Linked DNA regions of Homo sapiens. The protein of the gene in region 1 interacts with the protein of each later gene in a pairwise test. Each region holds a gene or a part of one and is shown in the gene's direction. Other genes may lie near its edges.

Region 1 (5,770 bases):
TCCCAACAACCTTTGAGAATGGACGCTGCATCCAGGCCAACTACTCACTAATGGAAAACGGAAAGATCAAAGTGTTAAACCAGGAGTTGAGGTGAGTGGCTGTGGGCGTCCGGGGCCAGGCCTGCGGAGTGCTGATGCAGAGTGACTGGGTGTCCGGCAGCCTGGGTCAGGGAGGATGGGAACCTTGCTGGATCGGGACTGCCTGCTCCTAGCAGGAATTGAGAGGAAAGCGTTTGGCAGGCAAGGATGGCAAGGACTAGGATCCACTTATGCATTTCCATGACCACCTGCGGGGCACAAACTGACAGGGTTCCTGCACTCACTGCAAAATAGATACTCTGGTAGCAAAGAACATCAAGACCATCTCTTCTGACCTCCAGTCTGGGAGAGAAGCCGCTTCGACACCATCTGCTGACAGAAGCATCCAGCTTTGTTCAAACACTTCCAGGAACTGGGAGCTCATCGCCTTCCAGGACAGTTCATCCCATCTCTGGGCAGCTTAATCTATCAGAAAGCTCCTTTTCTTATTAAGCAAGAATCACATACACAACATTCACACTCTAGGTTATGTAAACAGGATATCCTTTAGAAGTGTACATTTCTATTACTGAGGGCTTCTAACACAATAATTAATCCAAAAAGCTACGCTTTGGAAAGCAACTATAAACTTAAAAAGAGCCCCAGGAAGAGCTCCTTCCTACCCACCTTCCACTCTTGAAAATACAAATGCAGTTTTTCCATGAACATGTTGTGACTTCATGGTCAGAGACTGGTGTCCTGAAAACCGTTCTAGAGCAAAATGCAATTGACGGTGAAAAGGGCAGAATCTGCTGGGAGGAGACTGGTTTGTTGCTAAGTTAACGTATGCAGATAGAAACAGACCATCTTCCCCAGCTGTCTGAGATCCAGATGAGAGAGGAGGGCACGGTCTCCAGCTTTACATGGTGATAAACAGAGAAAGTACTTGGGAACATCAGAGCACAGTTCCCAGAATCCCTGGCCTGTTGCTCATTGTCCTGTTTCTAGGACATCCGTCACCACTAACCATAGCATTAACCTACTGACTTTCTTTTTTTTTTTTAATTGTATTTTAGTAGAGACGGGGTTTCACTGTGTTGGCCAGGCTGGTCTTGATCTCCTGACCTTGTGATCCGCCCCCCCTTGGCCTCCCAAAGTGCTGGGATTACAGGCGTGAGCCACCACGCCCGGCCAACCTACTGACTTTCTAACACATACGACTGCTCTAATTTCAGTTGGCCTCCCTGCTCTGCCTTGAGGATTGATAAACAGACATCCTCTCCTCTGTTGGCTTCCTAGGAAGAGCACCCTGATGCCTTAGCACCCTCCCTTTGGTGCCTCCATCTCCACACCTTTCCCCTTCTCCCAAGTTCATGGGGCCATTGGGAGTCATCTAGAAAGCAGGCTCATTCAAAGAGGTGAAAGTATTGCATCCAATCTAAGCCCCCAGCTTTTAAGACACACCACTGCGTTATATGCCACTAAGAAAGGAATGACACTGCTAATTGTCAGGTGACATCAATTGTGAGATATGCATTTCTTCACATTTAATGTCTCTGAAATCTGGGCATACCTGAGAATCACTGAGATAAAGTAAATGTTTCTTCACTGCCTCCTTTTACTTGGCCTACATTGAAATCCCCCACACTCACTCAGAGGCTTGCTGAACTAGAGGGAGTCTCTGGACTCAGGCCCCTTGATGGGACAGGCGATGTCACATGATATCACTGAGGCCCAAAGAAGGGGAACGCTTTTATGTCTCCTTGTTTTGAATTATTTTCAGTGATCAAGTCCATCCTCATCTGTACCTTTGGCCCTTCTCGTTTTAAAAAGAAGTGAATCTGCCAGGCACGGCGGCTCACGCCTGTAATCCCAGCACTTTGGGAGGCTGAGGCAGGTAGATTGCCTGAGGTCAGGAGTTTGAGACCAGCCTGGCTAACATGGTGAAACCCCGTCTCTACTAAAGATACAAAAAATTAGCCAGGCGTGGTGGTGCATGCCTGTAATCTCAGCTCCTGGGGAGGCTGAGGGAGGAGAATTGCTTGAACCGGGGAGGCAGAGGTTGCAGTAAGCCGAGATCGCACCACTGCACTCCAGCCTGGGGGACAGAGCAAGACTCCATCTCCAAAAAAAAAAAAAAGTGAATCTTCTTTGTGTGTTGGGTTGTTTTGTTTGTTTTTCCATTCTCTTTTCTCCCTTTCTTTGGAGACTGGGAGCAGGAATTGGTCTTTCAGGCCATAGAAGATAGTCAGAGATAGTGTTGAAGTGCAAGGGCCTAACATACTGTCCCATCCTGGAGCTTGTCAATTGCGGCTTCTTATCACCCCGCTGCTCTCTTCCCCTGCTTGGCCTCAGAGACAGTCACAAGGGAAAGGCCAGGCCATGGAGCTAGGGTCTAGCCTGCCTTTGAGAGCCTCTCTTACCAGAAATCACGGTGTTGGCTGCCACGGTCCTTAGTGGCACAAATCTTGCCTTTCGTTGCTTATTGGCTTTCAATGAGTTGTTTTTCTTTTCTCTTTTCGTTTTTTGTATTTTTTCTTTTTTTAACTCACTGCAGAGCTGATGGAACTGTGAATCAAATCGAAGGTGAAGCCACCCCAGTTAACCTCACAGAGCCTGCCAAGCTGGAAGTTAAGTTTTCCTGGTGTAAGTATCCACTTTTCCCAGGAGGATTCAGGGACAGGAAATATGCAAACTGAAGGCTAGCGCCCCGGCTTGGAGAATTCCTGAGACACCTGAGTGTCATCTATAATCACTCAGCACATAATTATCTGTCAAACACTTACTACATGTCACGCACTAGGGTTGCCATGATGAGCCGGACAGAGCTGGCCTTGGTACTTATGGAGCTCACATCCCAGTGTGGATACTGACACGTGACCCCGCAATTTACTATAACTAGCTAGCGTTTCAACAGGTGAAACACAAGTAGGTGCACACCGGGTGTGGGCTGCAGAAGACACAACCCAGTCTTGTTTCCCAAAGGAAACTGGGGCCCGAAACATTAGCAGATATTAGCAGAACAACCTGCACGGCGCAGAAACTAGGAAGCAAGAGATGACAAGAGTGACGGCAAGTTTGAATCCTGCTTCTGCCACTTTCCAGTCACATTGTTGGGGATCCTGTGAGATACCTAATGACAGGCATTTGCCTCTGGGTTCTGAGCTAACTGAGGAAGGGACACAGGCAATAGAGAAAGCACCAAATATTAGTTTTATTTCCGACGAAGATACACTAGAGAGTTCAACCCAGAACTGTGAGGCTTTCTAACACGAAGAGTGCTTGAAAGCCCCTTTCCCACCTGCAGGGTAGACACTGAAGTCATCAGCTACAAAAGTTACTCCCTGCACTTCCTACTTCTCATCTCTGCCACTCCTCCACCCCACACCAGTCAAGTGCCTAGAGCGGGGAGGAGAGGAAGTTCTAATTTTATAGACCAAGAAAGGAATGCTGGGAGGAGAAAACAGTTCTTCTCACACTATGAATATGGACAACTAACTTCACATGTACAAGCCAGAAATAACTGCCCAGTGTCGTGAAAATAAACCAGATACACACGCTCTGTAAACTGTAAAGGGCTTTATACACAGTTTCTCTTGTTATTTTTATCAAGAAGGGAGCTAAAGTGCAGGTGGGCTGAGTGACGCAGGCCATCACTGAACTCATTAGAAGTAGAGTTGGGACCTAAACCTAGGTCTCCAAACTCTCAACTGAGTATTTTTCCCATAGGGATCAGGGACGGGGATTGGAGTGAAAGCTAACTATTACATGCATAACAAGGATTAGATGTTTGCGTTAGGCCTTGTAGGATTATGGGAGATTATGGAAAAGGATTTCCAAGTGAAGGGAACTGGAACATAGAAGAAGGCCTGAATACAGGCATATCACGAAGTCAGGAGTTCAAGACCAGCCTGGCCGACATGGTGAAACCCTGTCTCTACTAAAGATACAAAAAATTAGCTGGGCATGGTGGCGTGTGCCTGTAATCCCAGCTACTCAGGATGCTGAGGCAGGAGAATCGCTTGAACCCAGGAGGTGGAGGTTGCAGTGAGCTGAGATCGCGCCATTGCACTCCAGCCTGGGCGACAAGAGTGAAACTCCATCTCAAAAAAAAAAAAAAAAAAAAAAAAAAAAAACGAAGAAGAAGAAGGCCTGAATAAAGAGGCCTAGAGCCTGGGAGTGTACATGAAGAGGGGCATGAGGTTAGGAAGGGCCTTGAATGCCACATTAAAAGGCTTGAAGTTTCTTCCATAAACAATAGGAGACTGTCAAAGTTTTCAAATAAGGAGAGACATGTGAAGTTTTCTGTATTGTATCTGGGTAAATTTATTCTTCGGAACTGGACCACGAGAGGAAGGCAGAATGTGCCAGCCTGGGTGAGTGCAGGTGGGCCATGATGCCGCTGCTGGCAGAGGTGGGAGACAGATTTTTGCAAAATCACTCTGGGCTTAAGAGTTCTCAGTCCACCTGGGAATACACAGAGCAGCTGAAATGTGCAGATGGGTGATGACTATAACGCTGTCTCTCTCTCTCTCTCTGTCTCTCTCTCTGGGTGAGTGAGGCAGGCAGGCAGGCAGGGCACCAACAGTGCTAGAAAGGGTAAGTCAGAAACACTCAGTCTAGGCTTTCGTCCAAACTTCTTTCCAGGGTCTTTCTGTTTCTGGATTGATAAACAAAATCAGAGGTGGGGGGCTTGGTGGGTGGTTGTCTGGGCCAGCCTTCTTGTGTTGTCCTGAGATTTCTCTTGCCCTCTCCCTCCAATAATGCTGCCTCTCTCTGGTTCTCAGTTATGCCATCGGCACCGTACTGGATCCTGGCCACCGACTATGAGAACTATGCCCTCGTGTATTCCTGTACCTGCATCATCCAACTTTTTCACGTGGATTTTGCTTGGATCTTGGCAAGAAACCCTAATCTCCCTCCAGAAACAGTGGACTCTCTAAAAAATATCCTGACTTCTAATAACATTGATGTCAAGAAAATGACGGTCACAGACCAGGTGAACTGCCCCAAGCTCTCGTAACCAGGTTCTACAGGGAGGCTGCACCCACTCCATGTTACTTCTGCTTCGCTTTCCCCTACCCCCCCCCCATAAAGACAAACCAATCAACCACGACAAAGGAAGTTGACCTGAACATGTAACCATGCCCTACCCTGTTACCTTGCTAGCTGCAAAATAAACTTGTTGCTGACCTGCTGTGCTCGCAGTAGATTCCAAGTTGGATTAATTATTGTGGGTTTTTCATTATAAGCTTATGCTTAGAAATCCTTAAACAGGCTGGTTGTGGTGCCTCATGCCTGTAATCCCAGCACTTTGGGAGGCTGAGGCAGGAGGATCACCTGAGGCCGGGAGTTCAAGACCAGTCTGGGCAACATAGCAAGACCTCATCTCTACAAAAATGTTTTTAAAATTAGCTGGGTATGGTGGTGCACACCCGTGCTAGCTACTCAGGAGGTGGTGGCAGGAGGATGACTTGAGCCCAAGAATTCGAGGGTACAGTGAGCTATGATGGCACCACTGCACTCCAGCCTGGGCAACAGAGCAAGACCCTGCCTCTAAAAAGAAAAACAGAAAAAAAAATCCTTAAGCAGTTATGTTGAAAAAAACCAAGCACTGAATTGTCCTCATTTAAAGGTAACAATCCTGTTTCTGGAGTGGGGGAAGCTGATGGCAAAGGCGTATTCTGGGTGACCTGAATCCAGATGCCCCCGTTCTGGAGTAGATGCTGCTTTCAGGGTGAATTACTTGGGC
Region 2 (7,450 bases), on another chromosome or scaffold:
GAAGACATGCAGGTGAACAAACAATACATAGATGAACAACCAACAGATTAAAATTACATTTCCCAATTATGTTTGTCCTTGCCCACTCTACCACAGCCCCTCTGGCTTCCTTGCTGCCTCAAGCTTCGCCCCCATGCCCTCACGATTCTCTCACCTTCTTGAAAAATTGCTCAAATCTCACCTCAGTGAGGTCTCTTTGGGCACCACCTCCCCTCCACCAGCAATCCCAATCCCCCTCACCCTGCCATATGTTCTCATTTCTGGTACTTACTACCTTCAAATGTTCTGTATAATTCACTCATTCATTGTGTTTAATGCCTATTCTCCACCTCCCCACTAGGAATCTTTGTCTTACCAAAGTGTCCCACACACCTTAAAGGGTGGGAGCTCAACAACTACTTATTGAATGAATCTCTAAACATTGCCCACTAAGTCAGAGCTGGGCTTGAAATACTCAGAGAAGTGACCGGATTCTCCCACAGCCCCCCGTCCTATGTTTCTCAGAGACTCGTTCCCCCTGGCACTTCCCAGTAACTGGAAGAGAGATTCTACATCTCCCAATTCCAGTCACCAGAGGGATTGACTGAGGATGGTCCTCTTGGGCCCCATAAATCTTTCTGCCCTTCTCCTCAGGCCAGGGCTCACCTGGTTCTCCCTAAAGAGACTCTCTGCATATTGAGTCTGTGTCCCATAACTGGAGGCACCCGGAGCCATGGAAAACACATGGGCTTGAGAGCTATGCCACAACCTTAGGGTGTCATTTCAACTCTAGCCTTGGTTTCCTCATCTATAAAATAAGGGCTGGGACCAATGATCTCCTCCAGTCTTTCCCAGTTCTGACATTTTCCCTGTGGAAGTGGGGGAGTGCGTAACCTTGGTCAAAACGTACTTAGAAACAAACCAACCCATGGCCCTGGGGCACAGGACATAGCCACACTCAGATCATAGCAAATATAACCAACAAGTGAACAGGCATTCACAGCATCACATAGGTTAGATTAGCAGCCACCATCTGTTTTCACAAAGCAAAAAAGGCAGTGATTATTATCTCTATTTCACAGATGAGAAAACTGAGGCTCAGAAAGGCTAAACAAGCCACCCGCACACAGGAAGCAGAAGAGCCACACTCAAAGCCAGGTCTTCCAATGGCAAATTCCACAGACTTTCCACAAAGAACTGCCTCATTGCTTTTGAAATGCACCCTGGGCCAGGTGCAGTGGCTCATGCCCGTAGTCCCAGCACTTTGGGAGGCTGAGGCAGGCAGATTGCTTGAGCTCAGGAGCTCGAGACCAGCCTGGGCAATACGGCAAAACCCCATCTCTACAAAAAATACAAAAATTAGCTGGGTGTGGTGGCCTGCGCCTGTAGTACCAGCTACTTGGGGGGCTGAGGTGGGAGGATTGCTTGAGCCCAGAGGTGGAGGTTGCAGTGTGCCAATATCAGGCCACTGCACTCCAGCCTGGGTGACAAAGCAAGACCTTGTCTCAAAATAGAAAAGAAAGAAAAAGAGAGAGAGAGAAAGAAAGGAAAGAAAGAAAGGAAGAGAGAGAGAAAGAAAGAGAAAGAAAGAAAGAAAGAAAGAGAAAGAAAGAAAGAAAGAAAGAAAGAAAGAAAGAAAGAAAGAAAGAAAGAAAGAAAGAAAGGAAAAACGAACCCTGGTAGGAGAATGCCACCATTAGATTATCCAAAATGTCAATAATCTAATAATCTATAAGATTACAGAATATAAAATTGGAACTTACATTTGAATGTGGTTATGTCTCCTATTCTAGACATTTACTTATTTATCTCAAATAATGCAATACAGACACCCTGGGAAGACATCCCTCTGAAAGACCTGAGAAAGTGATTCTTGGTAGGAATAGACAAGTCATCTCTCAATGGTAGCTAAGGTGAGCCTCTTTCCCGATCTCTTTCAAAACTTTCCCCAAGATATACACGACTGAGTGTTTATATTTTCAAGGACTTCCCAGCTACAAACAGAAGAACCAATAACAAAGATAACTTAATCAATTGGGTACTACGAGTAGAGGAGTATCTTCTTTGTTAACAGCGTAAGAAAACAAAGAAAGTGCTAAATTGAAAAGCTAGATTTGTCTAAATCCGAGAGACTATAACTGGTTCAGAGCCTTGTTGACAGCCCCGTTTTTCTGGATTCAAATGCATCCTCTACTACCATCTCTCACAAAATGATGATGAGCGATGACACCACCCACTACATTAGCCAAGTTGGACTGGGAAGCCTTGGATAGGGAGAACTTCATTTTAAAGAGAAGCTTTGTAGATTCTTTTCTCTTCATAGGACTATATCAGGGAGAGCGCAAGCTTCAGGAATCAGCATGTACTGAATATTCCCAAAGAAAGAATGATTGGATTTTTTCCCCTCATCCTCTGACTTCTTACCTTATTGATATTGCAGGGATCAGCCTTGACCATCTATTTTTAACTGAAGGATTTGCTATAGGGCATTGTCCCAGTCAGTGTGGGCCCTCAAACTTGGGAGTTCAAAAGAAATCAGACATCTAAAGTAAACAAGGTTTTGGGCTAGTGACCATTTTATTTAAAATGGAATTGGGGACTCACACAACATTGGTACCATCCTCCTTCAAACTGCCCCCATCAAAATGCAATATGTCCATGACACCAGAAAGGACAGGAAGGGGGGGTGGGGTGGTGAAGCCAGTGCTTAGATTTTTTTTGTCTAGTTTGCCCTCCAAGTTGTCTTCAATTTAGTAATCATACATTGCAGATTTCATAAAACAATCTAAGTTTCAACTATTTTTGCTCCATTGTTTTCACGAATAAACTTGTAGGATAAAATGCCCCTATTTTTGGTTTGGAAATGTAGTCAAAATAACCATTTTTTATACTACCAATAGTCAGTCCCAGATGATGGGACGGGAGTGGGCCTCAGAGAGCATATGTCCATGCCCTCCAAGCATCATTCCTCATTAAGCCACATTAGAATTTAATCCAAGAGCCTCCTGGTGAGCAAAACCATCATATCCCCATTTAACAGATGAAGGCACTAAAGTCTAAAAATGTTAGCTGACATTGATTGAACTTCCGCTACTCAAAAGTATATGTAATTATAAGTGAAACGTGGTGAGAAAGGCTATTACTTTGACAAATGGCACCAGAATTCTTTGGAGTGTTAAGGCTCCTTTCAAAGAGGGAGACCACCCTGCTGAAGGTTTGTTTGTGTTTCTTTTTTATTGTTTTGATCTTTTTAGAAAGCTCTTTCCTTTTATGTTTAGTTGACACATAATAATTGTACGTATTTGTGATACACAGTGATATTTCAATACATGTATACAATGTGTAATGATCAAATCAGGATAATTAGCATATTCAGCATCTCAAACATTTATCATTTCTTTCTGTTGGGAACAATCAAAATCCTCTCCTCTAGCTTTTTGAGACTATACAATAAAATAGTTAACGGCCAGGCATGGTCGCTCATGCTTGTAATCCCAGCATTTGGGGAGGCCAAGGCGGGCAGATCGCCTGAGGTCAGGAGTCTGAGGCCAGCCTGGCCAACATGGTGAAACCCCGTCTCTACTAAAAATAGAAAAAAAAAAATTAGCTGGGCGTGGTTGTGGGTGTCTGTTATCCCAGCTACTCAGGAGGCTGAGGCAGGAGAATAACTTGAACCTGAGAGGCAGAGGTTGCAGTGAGCTAAGATCGTGACATTGCACTCCAGCCTGGGTGGCAGAGCGAGACTCTGTCTCACACACACACAAAAATATAAAAATTAAAATAATTAATTAATTAATGTTAACCATATTCACCCTACAGCACTGCAGACCACCAGAACCCATTCCCCCTATCTAGCTGTGCTTTTGTATCTATTAGCAACATGCTCCCCATCCTTCCTTCCGCCACTACACTTCCCAGCCTCTAATATCCACAATTCTGCTGAAGGCTTTGAGAGACAAGAGCAAACCACCAATAAAAAATGAAATATGGTCCTTTGGAAAGGACCAACCACTCTTGGTGTGACTCAGGGCAGAGGGATTCACACAACTGACCACTTACTGTCCCTACATCATTAAGATTCTCCCAGCTGATGATAAGGCCTTGGGAAAATGCCCCTAGGCTCATGCGCTCTGGAGAGACGCCAAAGGTTTACTGATGTACAGGCCCAGTCTGCTGCTAAAAGAAACTTTGGGAGGCACAGAAGCCCCAGCTAAGCTTTCACACATCAGCTTTCCCCATCCTCCTCCCCTCAGTGCCCAACACAGCTCTCCCATTCTCTCACTCCCATTGTTTCCCAAACATCCCTCCCTTCATAAAAGCTGTCTGGCTGGGAGCTTAAAATATTGCTGGACAGTAAAACCTACCCATCAGGGCCAATCCAGTCATATCTGCTCAGTCGTGCAGCACAGTAGGGGCGGGGTAGAGAAGTGGGAGGTGGGCTTTTAGGCAGCAAAGGAAAGAGACGAAAGTTGCCATTTTGCTGCTGAGCGCCAAGAGAGAAAGAGCACATATTTCTCCGTGGGACACTCCTTGTATTGGCAAGTTTTCCTTGGGTGATATTAGTTTGTAACCTTCCCCCCAATTGTTCTTTCTCAGCCTAATCTAAGGGCCATATATAGGCTTCTCCAAAAGGAAAAAGGTTGCCAATAAGATTCAGTCTTGGGCTGGGATGGCTAGACTTACACTCCAACTCTGAAAACCCTCTTCAAGTTGACCTAAGAACTGGCAGAGGTTTGGAAGGGAGAGGAATGCTGGAATAATCAGCAGGATGGGGAAACAGAGATGTCCAAACTCAAACTACAATTTGACTTCTTAAGCTCTTTTCATGTCTACAGGAATCCACAGGGACCTAAACCAAGTATTTGATATTTATGAAAAAGTTTTGTGCCCTTTTCACTCAAATTCTACAATAGAAATAATAGTCATAATTACTGAATGCTGTGGGGGTAGCGGAGGCTTCGTGCTCAGCATTTTCCATGTTGGAGCATTTAATGGAGCACAGGAAGGGATCTGGCTAAGGACCATAAAATTCCTCCTAGGAGCAGGTTCTGTTGTCTATCTATGAGAACTGCTGGCTAGTGGCTGTTCTAGAAACTAGAAAAGAGGCACTTTCCACCTGGTTACCAACCAGAGTGGTAAGTGGCCATTGAACGCTTTGGATAACTTATTAATGGATGTATATGTGTTATTCTGCCTCTTCAAAACCAGAGGAGGGCTATGCTGTAATGGGCTTAGATCTAGAAGACCAGGGCTCACAGCCTAGCTCTGCCCTCACTAGCTAAGCCCCCATCTTGGAGACTCATTTCACCTCCCAGCCTGTCTTTTTGTCTGGTAATGGGGATTGATAATGCCAAGTTCACTGGTTCTCAGACATCCATCTGGGGATCTGTCAGTTCTAGCTCAAGATGAAGGTTTCCACAACCTGTGACCAAAATGTGACAATGATAAAGTTAACAATGTAGTAAATGTTTCACCAAGTTAAGTGTGTTCAATTTAAAGGCTTGTCTTTTATTCTGAAGTTATGTCCTCTCCAGTTTTGTGGTGTTAAAATCCCCTTTTATGAAATGATGATGAAAATAGACTGTAGTTGTAGTTAGTAATTTAATAACTCTTTTTTTTTTTTTTTGAGACAGAGTCTCGCTGTGTTGCCCAGGCTGGAGTGCAGTGGTGTGATCTCAGCTCACTGCAGCCTCCACCTCCTGGGCTCAAGCAATTCTCCTGCCCCAGCCTCCCAAGTAGCTGGGATTACAGGTGCCCCACCACCGTGCCCAGCTAATTTTTGTATTTTTAGTAGAGATAGGGTTTCACCCTGTTGGCCAGGCTGATCTTGAACTCCTGACCTCAAGTGATCCTCCCACCTCGGCCTCCCATAGTGCTGGGATTACAGGCATGAGTCACCACGCCCAGCCAATAACTCTTATTTTTATGTCCTTGTTTGGCAAAATAAGGAGTTGGTATCCTTATGTTGGTCACACTAGTTTGTTATTATTATACTAGTCTGTGAAATCTAAGTCTGAGAACCACTGGCCTAGTTCACAGCTTGTTATGAGGACTGAAATAAGATACGTGAAAATGTATCACTTAGATCAAGGATACCCAAACATAAGGTGTTATTTTAATCATTACCTCTAGCCATCATTTTCTGGTGGGATGTTCCTGGCCATATATGGACACCCTGGGGTTGGAGGCTTGAACTCTATCCATTTATTTTCCATCTGTAATAGGTCTGTTCACTAAATTTTCACAAGCAAAATAAAACAGAGAATTATCTCTGAGAAAGAGAAGAGAAATAGTCTTCCTTTGGTTCAGATTTCTCCCTGCTCCCACAGAACGCTTTGCTTCTCTGATCTGACTTCCTTTAAATTTTCACTGTTAGAAGTCAGGAAACCAATACATTTCCCTTCGCAGCTCTAAAGTGTCTCTCCTTAACAGCACAGTAGGCCTGTTTCAACATCATGGGGTTGGAAAGATTGTGTCCTAAATTACAGTTTCTCTCCTTCAGTTATCACAAGAAACTGTAACTAGACATTTAAAAAAAAATACAATCTTAGCATGGCGGCTTAGAGTATAGAAAGACATGGGCTTGTTTGGCTTTGGTTTCAAAATTACTAATGAGTGGTCAGGAACGACTTCTTGTGTCATGAACATGTATCATGACACTCTTGTCAAGAATTGTTGGCCTTCCAGTTTATATATTTGATCTCATACAAAATAAGCAGTTTTGTGTCTCAGAGCAGCTGGTTGGGGATCAATTTACTATCCTTTTTGTTATTTACCATTTTTTACAAGTTCTTAATTTTTCTGCTGTTAGCTGTAGCAAGAGGACTGAAGTTCCTTGGTCTCTAGTATTCATATTACAGGAATTTGGGGATTGAGAATTTCAGATTTCACAAGGATTACTATTAGAACCATGCACTGCTGTCTATGGAGCTCCCACTCTGTGAAGGGCTTTGTTCTGTGTTGTGATGGTTCACAAAAGATGAGGCCAAAATGGTTCCTGCCCTCCAAAACCTTTTGATACTAAAGGGGGGAAAACAAGATTGGTTAACATACAGGACTGAGAGCATGTGCTCATCACACACATTCATGTGGGTATGTGAGTGAAATACACTGTCAAAAATGAACTGATATATCAATGAGGGTAAGTATTAGCAAGATAGTTAAGATTCAGTAAGATATTAGTAAGATAGTAAGATATTAGCTAAATCTTATAGAAGTACAGTTATTCAAATTGCTGTTTTAACATAAATTTTAGAATGAACTATTTGATAAGAAATGAACTTTTTCCTGGCTCTGCCACCAGTGAGCTTTATGCTTGGGCTGCTTACCTGATTGTGATGTTTCCCACCTATTTTCCAAAAGGCAATGGGAATGGCTACCACTCTTACCAGGGCAATTACTAGACTTAACTATAGTCTGAAGAGTTAAAAATAGATACATGTGGCTGGGATTGAGTTGCTGGTTCCGATTC
Region 3 (7,034 bases), on another chromosome or scaffold:
AAGGAGACAACTGTTGGCTGCCTGTGGGAACACTGTTCTAGAAGCCACAGACAGTGCAATGTCCTGAAGCAGGAATGGAGTGTTCTCAGCCATTTAAGGGAATGGAAGGGATCCAGTGTGGCAGGGGATGAGTGCTGGGAGAAATCAAAGAGATGGCTCAGGATCGTATATGGCCTTATTGGCCCTGGTAAGGACTTTGGATTTACAGAGCCATGATAATGAAACTAATGATTTCAACAAACGAGTATAATGCAACTGCTATGAAAATAGCAGGGTGGGGAAGAGGGAGAGGCTGTGAGAGAGCTCCAGGAAGTTGGTAGGTGATGCCTGACAATGATGGATTAACAAATGACCACATGCACAAAGCATTAGGTTGGTGCAAAAGTAATTGTGGTTTTTGCCATTACGTTTGCACCCACCCATTAACTACAATGGTGGAGGTAAATACCGGAGGAAACAGCTGAAAGGGTTGAAAGTGGCTTTGCTGGGGGTGAGGAGGGACAGAACATGAGGCTGTTGCTTTTCACTATAAGTCTTTCATACGAGTTGATTTTCTGAAAACTGTAAGCATTTTTTTAAAAGCTTATGAAGTTATTTTTTTTTATTTTTTTTTATTGATCATTCTTGGGTGTTTCTCGCAGAGGGGGATTTGGCAGGGTCACAGGACAATAGTGGAGGGAAGGTCAGCAGATAAACAAGTGAACAAAGGTCTCTGGTTTTCCTAGGCAGAGTGTGTGTGTCCCTGGGTACTTGAGATTAGGGAGTGGTGATGACTCTTAACGAGCATGCTGCCTTCAAGCATCTGTTTAACAAAGCACATCTTGCACCGCCCTTAATCCATTTAACCCTGAGTGGACACAGCACATGTTTCAGAGAGCACAGGGTTGGGGGTAAGGTCATAGATCAACAGGATCCCAAGGCACAATTTTTCTTAGTACAGAACAAAATGAAAAGTCTCCCATGTCTACTTCTTTCTACACAGACACAGCAACCATCCGATTTCTCAATCTTTTCCCCACCTTTCCCCCTTTTCTATTCCACAAAACCGCCATTGTCATCATGGCCCGTTCTCAATGAGCTGTTGGGTACACCTCCCAGATGGGGTGGTGGTGGCCGGGCAGAGGGGCTCCTCACTTCCCAGTAGGGGCGGCCGGGCAGAGACGCTCCTCACTTCCTAGATGGGATGGCGGCCGGGCAGAGACGCTCCTCACTTTCCAGACTGGGCAGCCAGGCAGAGGGGCTCCTCACATCCCAGACGATGGGCGGCCAGGCAGAGACACTCCTCACTTCCCAGACGGGGTGGCGGCCGGGCAGAGGCTGCAATCTCGGCACTTTGGGAGGCCAAGGCAGGCAGCTGGGAGGTGGAGGTTGTAGCCGAGATCACGCCACTGCACTCCGGCCTGGGCACCATTGAGCACTGAGTGAACGAGACTCCGTCTGCAATCCCGGCACCTCGGGAGGCCGAGGCTGGCGGATCACTCGCGGTTAGGAGCTGGAGACCAGCCCGGCCAACACAGCGAAACCCCGTCTCCACCAAAAAAATACGAAAACCCGTCAGGCGTGGCGGCGCGGGCCTGCAATCCCAGGCACTCGGCAGGCTGAGGCAGGAGAATCAGGCAGGGAGGTTGCAGTGAGCCGAGATGGCAGCAGCACAGTCCAGCTTCGGCTCGGCATGAAAGGGAGACCGTGGAAAGAGAGGGAGAGGGAGAGGGAGAGGGCTTATGAAGTTCTTGATGATGGGTGGGACCCTCATCTGTCAATGTGTAAGATGTGAAACAGCCCTGACAATGTAGCTGGTGCTAGAGGGACGGGCCTGTGTCCAGGGTTGGAATATGCTGTGCAGACCAGGAATGCTTTACATTCCGGGGTGGTCTTTTCTAGATCACTGTCTCAGTCTGCTTGTGCTGCTACAACAAAATACCACAGACTGGGTAACTTATAAAGAACAAATTTATTTCTCACAGTTCTGAAGGTTTGGAGGTCCAATATCAAGGCACTGGTATGTGGTGTCTGTTGAAGGCTGTAGCCTCACATGGCAGAAAGGGCAAAAAAGGGAAGCAACTCCCTCCATTCAGCCCTTTATAAGGGTGCTTAATCCCATCCACAAGGGAGGAACCTTCATGGCTTAATCAGCTCTTAAAGGCCCCACATCTAATACTATCACACCGGCAACACCTGAATTTTGGAGGGGACCCATTCACACCATAGCATTCCAATCCTGGCCCCCCAGAATTCACGTACTTCTCACAAACAAAATACATTCATTCCACCACAATTGCCCTCAAAAGCCTTAAATCATTCCAACATGAACTTTAAAATCTAAGTCCAGAATCTTATCTAAGTCAGGTGTGAGAGAGACTCATTCACTTTGAGATAAATTTCATCCTGAGGCAAATTTCTCTCCAGCTGTGAGCCTGTGAATTCAAATGAGTTGCGTACTTTGATTCAAATACAATGGCGTGACAGGCACAGGACAGATGTTTCTAGTCCAAAAGGGAGAAACAGGAAGGAAGAAAGGAGTAACAACAGGTCTCAAGTGAGTCCAAAACTCAACATTAGATCTTAGGCTTGAGAATAATATTATCTGACTCCATATCTCACCTTCTGAACACACTGGGGTGGGTGTTGGGCCCCCAAGGCTCCAGGTGATACCACCTCCAAGGCTTCCCTAAGTATTGGCCTACTGGGGGCTCTCTGCAGTGGCTCCACCCCGGTGACAAATCTCTGCTCGGGCCCTGAGGTCAAAGAAATCCTTTCCATCGAGGTGGAGGCGGCCGTGCTCCCACAGCTCATACAGTATGCATACCTACAGAGTCAGCACCACATGGATGCCACCAAGATTTATAACTTGCGCCCTCTGGAGCAGTGGCCCAACCTGCACCTGGTCCTGCTTGAGCCACAGCTAGGGTGACGGAGGAATGCTCTGCTGGAAATGTGGGGAGCAGAGACCTGAGGTGGCCCTAGGCAGTGATCTCTGAGACCCCGCAGGCGCCTGGGCCCTTCCCCTGAAACTGTTCTGCCGCAAGGCTCTAACCCTCTGGGCCTCTAATGAGCAAGGCAGCCCCAAATGCCTTTGGGGTCATTCTCCGAAATGGCTTTGGAGTCATTTTCCGAAATGACTTTGGGGTCATTTTCCCGTTCTCTTGATAACTAGCACCTGGCTTCCTTCTACACATACTAACCTGCTTATCAGTCCTGTGGCCATACCCGTGGTTTTCTCTCCTACACACACGTTTTTCTCTTTTTCATGGCTAGGCTGAGAATTTTTCAGATATTGACCTTTAGCTTTCCTTTTGATGGTAAATTCTGCCTTCAAATTATTTCTCTTTTCTCACGTTTTTTTTTTTGTTGATGTTGTTGTTGTTTTTGAGATGGAGTTTTGCTTTTGTCACCCAGGCTGGAGTGCAATGGCGCGATCTCGGCTCACTGCAACCTCCCTCTCCCGGGTTCAAGCGATTCTCCTGCCTCAGTCTCCCGAGTAGCTGGGACTACAGGCTCCTGCCACCGCGCCCGGCTAATTTTTTTATGTTTAGTAGAGACAGGGTTTCACCATGTTTGTCAGGCTTATCTCGAACTCCTGACCTCAGGTGATCTGCCTGCCTCGCCCTCCCAAAGTGCTGGGATTACAGGCGTGAGCCACCGCACCTGGCCTCTCATGTTTTTCTATAAGCAGTTAAGAGAAGCCACACAGCATCCTGAACACTTTGCTTTCTATCTCTTCTGCCAAATATCCTAGGTCATCATTCTTAAGTTCTGCCCTCCATGAAGTCCTAGGAAACGACATAATTCAGGTAAGTTCTTTACCACTTTCTAACAAGGATAACCTTTCTTCTAGTTTCCAATACCTTGTTCTTTATTTCTGTCTGAGACCTCATCAGAATTGCCTTCACCATCGGTATCTCTATCAACATTCTGTTCATGACCACTTAGGCAATCTCTAAGAACGAGGCTTTCCCCACAGCTCATATCCCACATCTACAGCTCTCCTCTTCTTCTGAGCCCTCACCAGAATCATCCTTAGTGCTCCGTTCATGGCAATCCAGGCTTTTTTCAGCACTCACTTCAAAGCTGTTCCAGCTTGTATTCATTATCCAGTTCCAAAGCCACCCCCACATTTTTACATATTTGTTATAACCCCTGGTTATAAATGTTATAAACTCCTCTGGTACCAATTTCTGTCTTAGTCCCTGTTGTGCTGATATCACACAATACGCAGACTGGGTAATTTATAAAGAACAACAATTTATTTCTCACTGTTCTGAAAGCTGGGAAGTCCAAGATCAAGGCAGCAGCATCTGGTGTCTGCTGAGGGCTGCATCCTCACATGCAGGAGGACAAACAGGGGACCAGCTCCCTCCAGCCAACCCCTGTATGAGGGAGGGCATCTGCTCCTAGTTCAGGAGGGAGGGGCCCTCATGGCCTAGTCCCTTCTTAAAAGTCCTCTTCTCGGCCGGGTGTGGTGGCTCACACCTGTAATCCCAGCACTTTGGGAGGCCGAGGTGGGCAGATCACCTAAGGTCAGGAGTTCGAGAAAAGCCTGGCCAACATGGTGAAACCCCGTCTCTACTAAAAATATAAAAATTAGCCAGGCGTGGTGGCGGGTGCCTGTAATTCCAGCTACTCGGGAGGCTGAGGCAGGAGAATCGCTTGAACCTGGGAGGCAGAGGTTGTAGTGAGCCAAGATCGTGCCACTGCACTCCAGCCTGGGTGACAGAGTGAAACTCTGCCTCAAAAAAAAAAAAAAAGTCCCCTTCTCTTAATGCTATCACCTTGGCAACACCTGGATTTTGGAGGGGACACATTCAAACCACAGCAATCACCAACAACTGGTATTTTTCTCCCACCCTACATATTCTTTAGGTAACCACCCAGGCCAGTGGGGAAAATAATCAATCTACTTCTGAATAAATCCTAGCTATAGTTTCATGCTACTGCAAATGGGATAACAGCAAATCATGCCTGAAAATTTTTGGAATAAGGTGATGTTTACATCGTTATGCTGATTTTTACAAACTGTGAATCATATTGACCAGGTTCATTTGTACTAGACCACCACACCAAAACTTTATAAAATTATTTTCCAGTTGGGTGAAAAATGATGTTGTGCTTTCGTTTGCCCATCTCTAATTTCCGGGAGATTTATAATTTGTTTGTATTATTTTGTGAATCATCCGTTCATGTCTTCTGCCTATTCTTCTACGGTCTTTTTCTTATCAATTTGTAAAGACTCTAATGTAATAGCCAACTGCTACAAGCATGTTTCTGATTTGTTGTTTACCTTTTGATGTTCTTGATATTAAAAGATGCTTATATAGCTGAACGTTTTTCTTTTCTAGTTCCCCCCTTTATGTTTATGGCTTGGAAGTTTTCTCTATCTGAGATCAATAAATATTACCTATCCTCCTCTTTCCCCACCCTCATCCTTTTATTTTACCCACATGTTTAAAGCATTACAGACAGTGGAGTCCAGTTGGTTATGCAACTCACTTTACAGATGAGACTTCAGTGACGTAACATAAGGCTTGTTTTATGAGAATGTGTTGATCCTTCTTAACGTGGCTTATGATTTGCAATCTCAGGCACGTATTGTGTTTCCTGCCAAAATATACATTTGTTTGCTTGCTTCATTAGCCACCTAACAGCCTTCCCCTAATTTTTTAGGTGTCCTGATGGCAAATTTCAAGGGCCACGCGCTTCCAGGGAGTTTCTTCCTGATCATTGGGCTGTGTTGGTCAGTGAAGTACCCGCTGAAGTACTTTAGCCACACGCGGAAGAACAGCCCACTACATTACTATCAGCGTCTCGAGATCGTCGAAGCCGCAATTAGGACTTTGTTTTCCGTCACTGGTAAGAGCAGGGGTCATTTGGTCTAGGGAATCTCCTCATCATACCCAGAACCTTTAATTCATTTTCTGAGCCCTGTGAAATAGATGTTCCCACTGGCAGAGATAATAGGGCAACAATTTCCTGATGGCCACTAGACTATTTTATCGTAACATCCATTGTGTACAGAGCTTTATAATACTAACGGTTGACAGCTCTCACATCATGGGACACTGTGAAAAACTCAAATCAACAAGGACACAGGTATGGAAAGTTGTAGGAGCAAAACACCCACTGTATGAAAAAGATATGACACAAATAAAAAGAGAAAAAAACAAAATAGATTAGGCTCACGTACCTTAGTTGTGACAAAGTAGAAAAATCACCTTTTTTCCTCAATTGTCTCTCCCTCCAGATCCTTACAGTAGTTAACACCCAACCCACTGGCTTATCTTCATCCTCAAGTCTCAAGCGCTTATAGAGAGTTTATGTAGATTCGTAAATTAGCCAGTGGGAGAGAAAAAGCAGCAGAGGGCTGTTGAAGAGGAATTTTCCTTCACTCTGCCCCATTCCAACAAGATCCACCCACTCCCACTGTTTCCTTCGCATCCACTCCGCTCCACTGCGGCCCTCCAGGAACAAGCAGTGATGACAGTAACAAGTGTTCTTCCTCAGGACCAGCCCCACCTGGGGGGAATGAGGGGTCTTAATCTGCAACTGACAATTACCACTTGTCATCAGTGGCCTATGGCTTCTTGGAGAGAGTGAAGCAACATCGCTTCTCTTGGAGGAAGCAAAGCTTCACAGGGCTTTGTTGGTCTCATCCTGCTGAATGTCCCCACTCACCATTCAGGCATCAGAGAGGCCTCCCGTGAGAAGTGACAGGGACCTGTGGCTTAAAGGATCAGGACAGCATCAACCTTGCCTAAATAAAGCTAGGACAATTACAATATTTGGCCCCTTGACTGGGTGAAAATGGTACTCATTCAACAGCTCTCTGGCACTCCTACCACAAGCCAGGAAGTCACTGTTCCAGGCATAGGAGATACACTGGGGAACCACACAGCCGCTGCTGTCACAGGGCTTCCATTCTAGTGTCACTGGGACTTTTCCTGGGTCATTTCCACAACTTCCTGACTCTGTGTGTGGGAATTCAAAAAGGGTCTGGCTTGAGAAACAAGTATCTGGGAAACGGAGTCCAAAATGTCATC

Evidence for each region. Proteins that work in one complex are often made in the same cells at the same time.
Region 2: the proteins of APOD (region 1) and GJA8 interact in binary tests that used the Homo sapiens proteins (3 or more experiments, as listed by UniProt).
Region 3: the proteins of APOD (region 1) and TMEM45B interact in binary tests that used the Homo sapiens proteins (3 or more experiments, as listed by UniProt).

The regions. Positions count from the first base shown.
Region 1 is NC_000003.12:195,568,171-195,573,940, reverse strand, and holds the end of APOD (apolipoprotein D precursor), read left to right. Parts: coding exon 1-91; intron 92-2,575; coding exon 2,576-2,664; intron 2,665-4,805; coding exon 4,806-5,041; 3' UTR 5,042-5,236; downstream 5,237-5,770. UniProt on the Homo sapiens protein: APOD occurs in the macromolecular complex with lecithin-cholesterol acyltransferase. It is probably involved in the transport and binding of bilin. Appears to be able to transport a variety of ligands in a number of different contexts.
Region 2 is NC_000001.11:147,898,345-147,905,794, forward strand, and holds the start of GJA8 (gap junction alpha-8 protein), read left to right. Parts: upstream 1-4,450; 5' UTR 4,451-4,517; intron 4,518-7,450.
Region 3 is NC_000011.10:129,846,814-129,853,847, forward strand, and holds part of TMEM45B (transmembrane protein 45B), read left to right. Parts: intron 1-3,736; exon of another isoform or gene 3,737-3,791; intron 3,792-4,848; exon of another isoform or gene 4,849-4,979; intron 4,980-5,661; 5' UTR 5,662-5,669; coding exon 5,670-5,847; intron 5,848-7,034.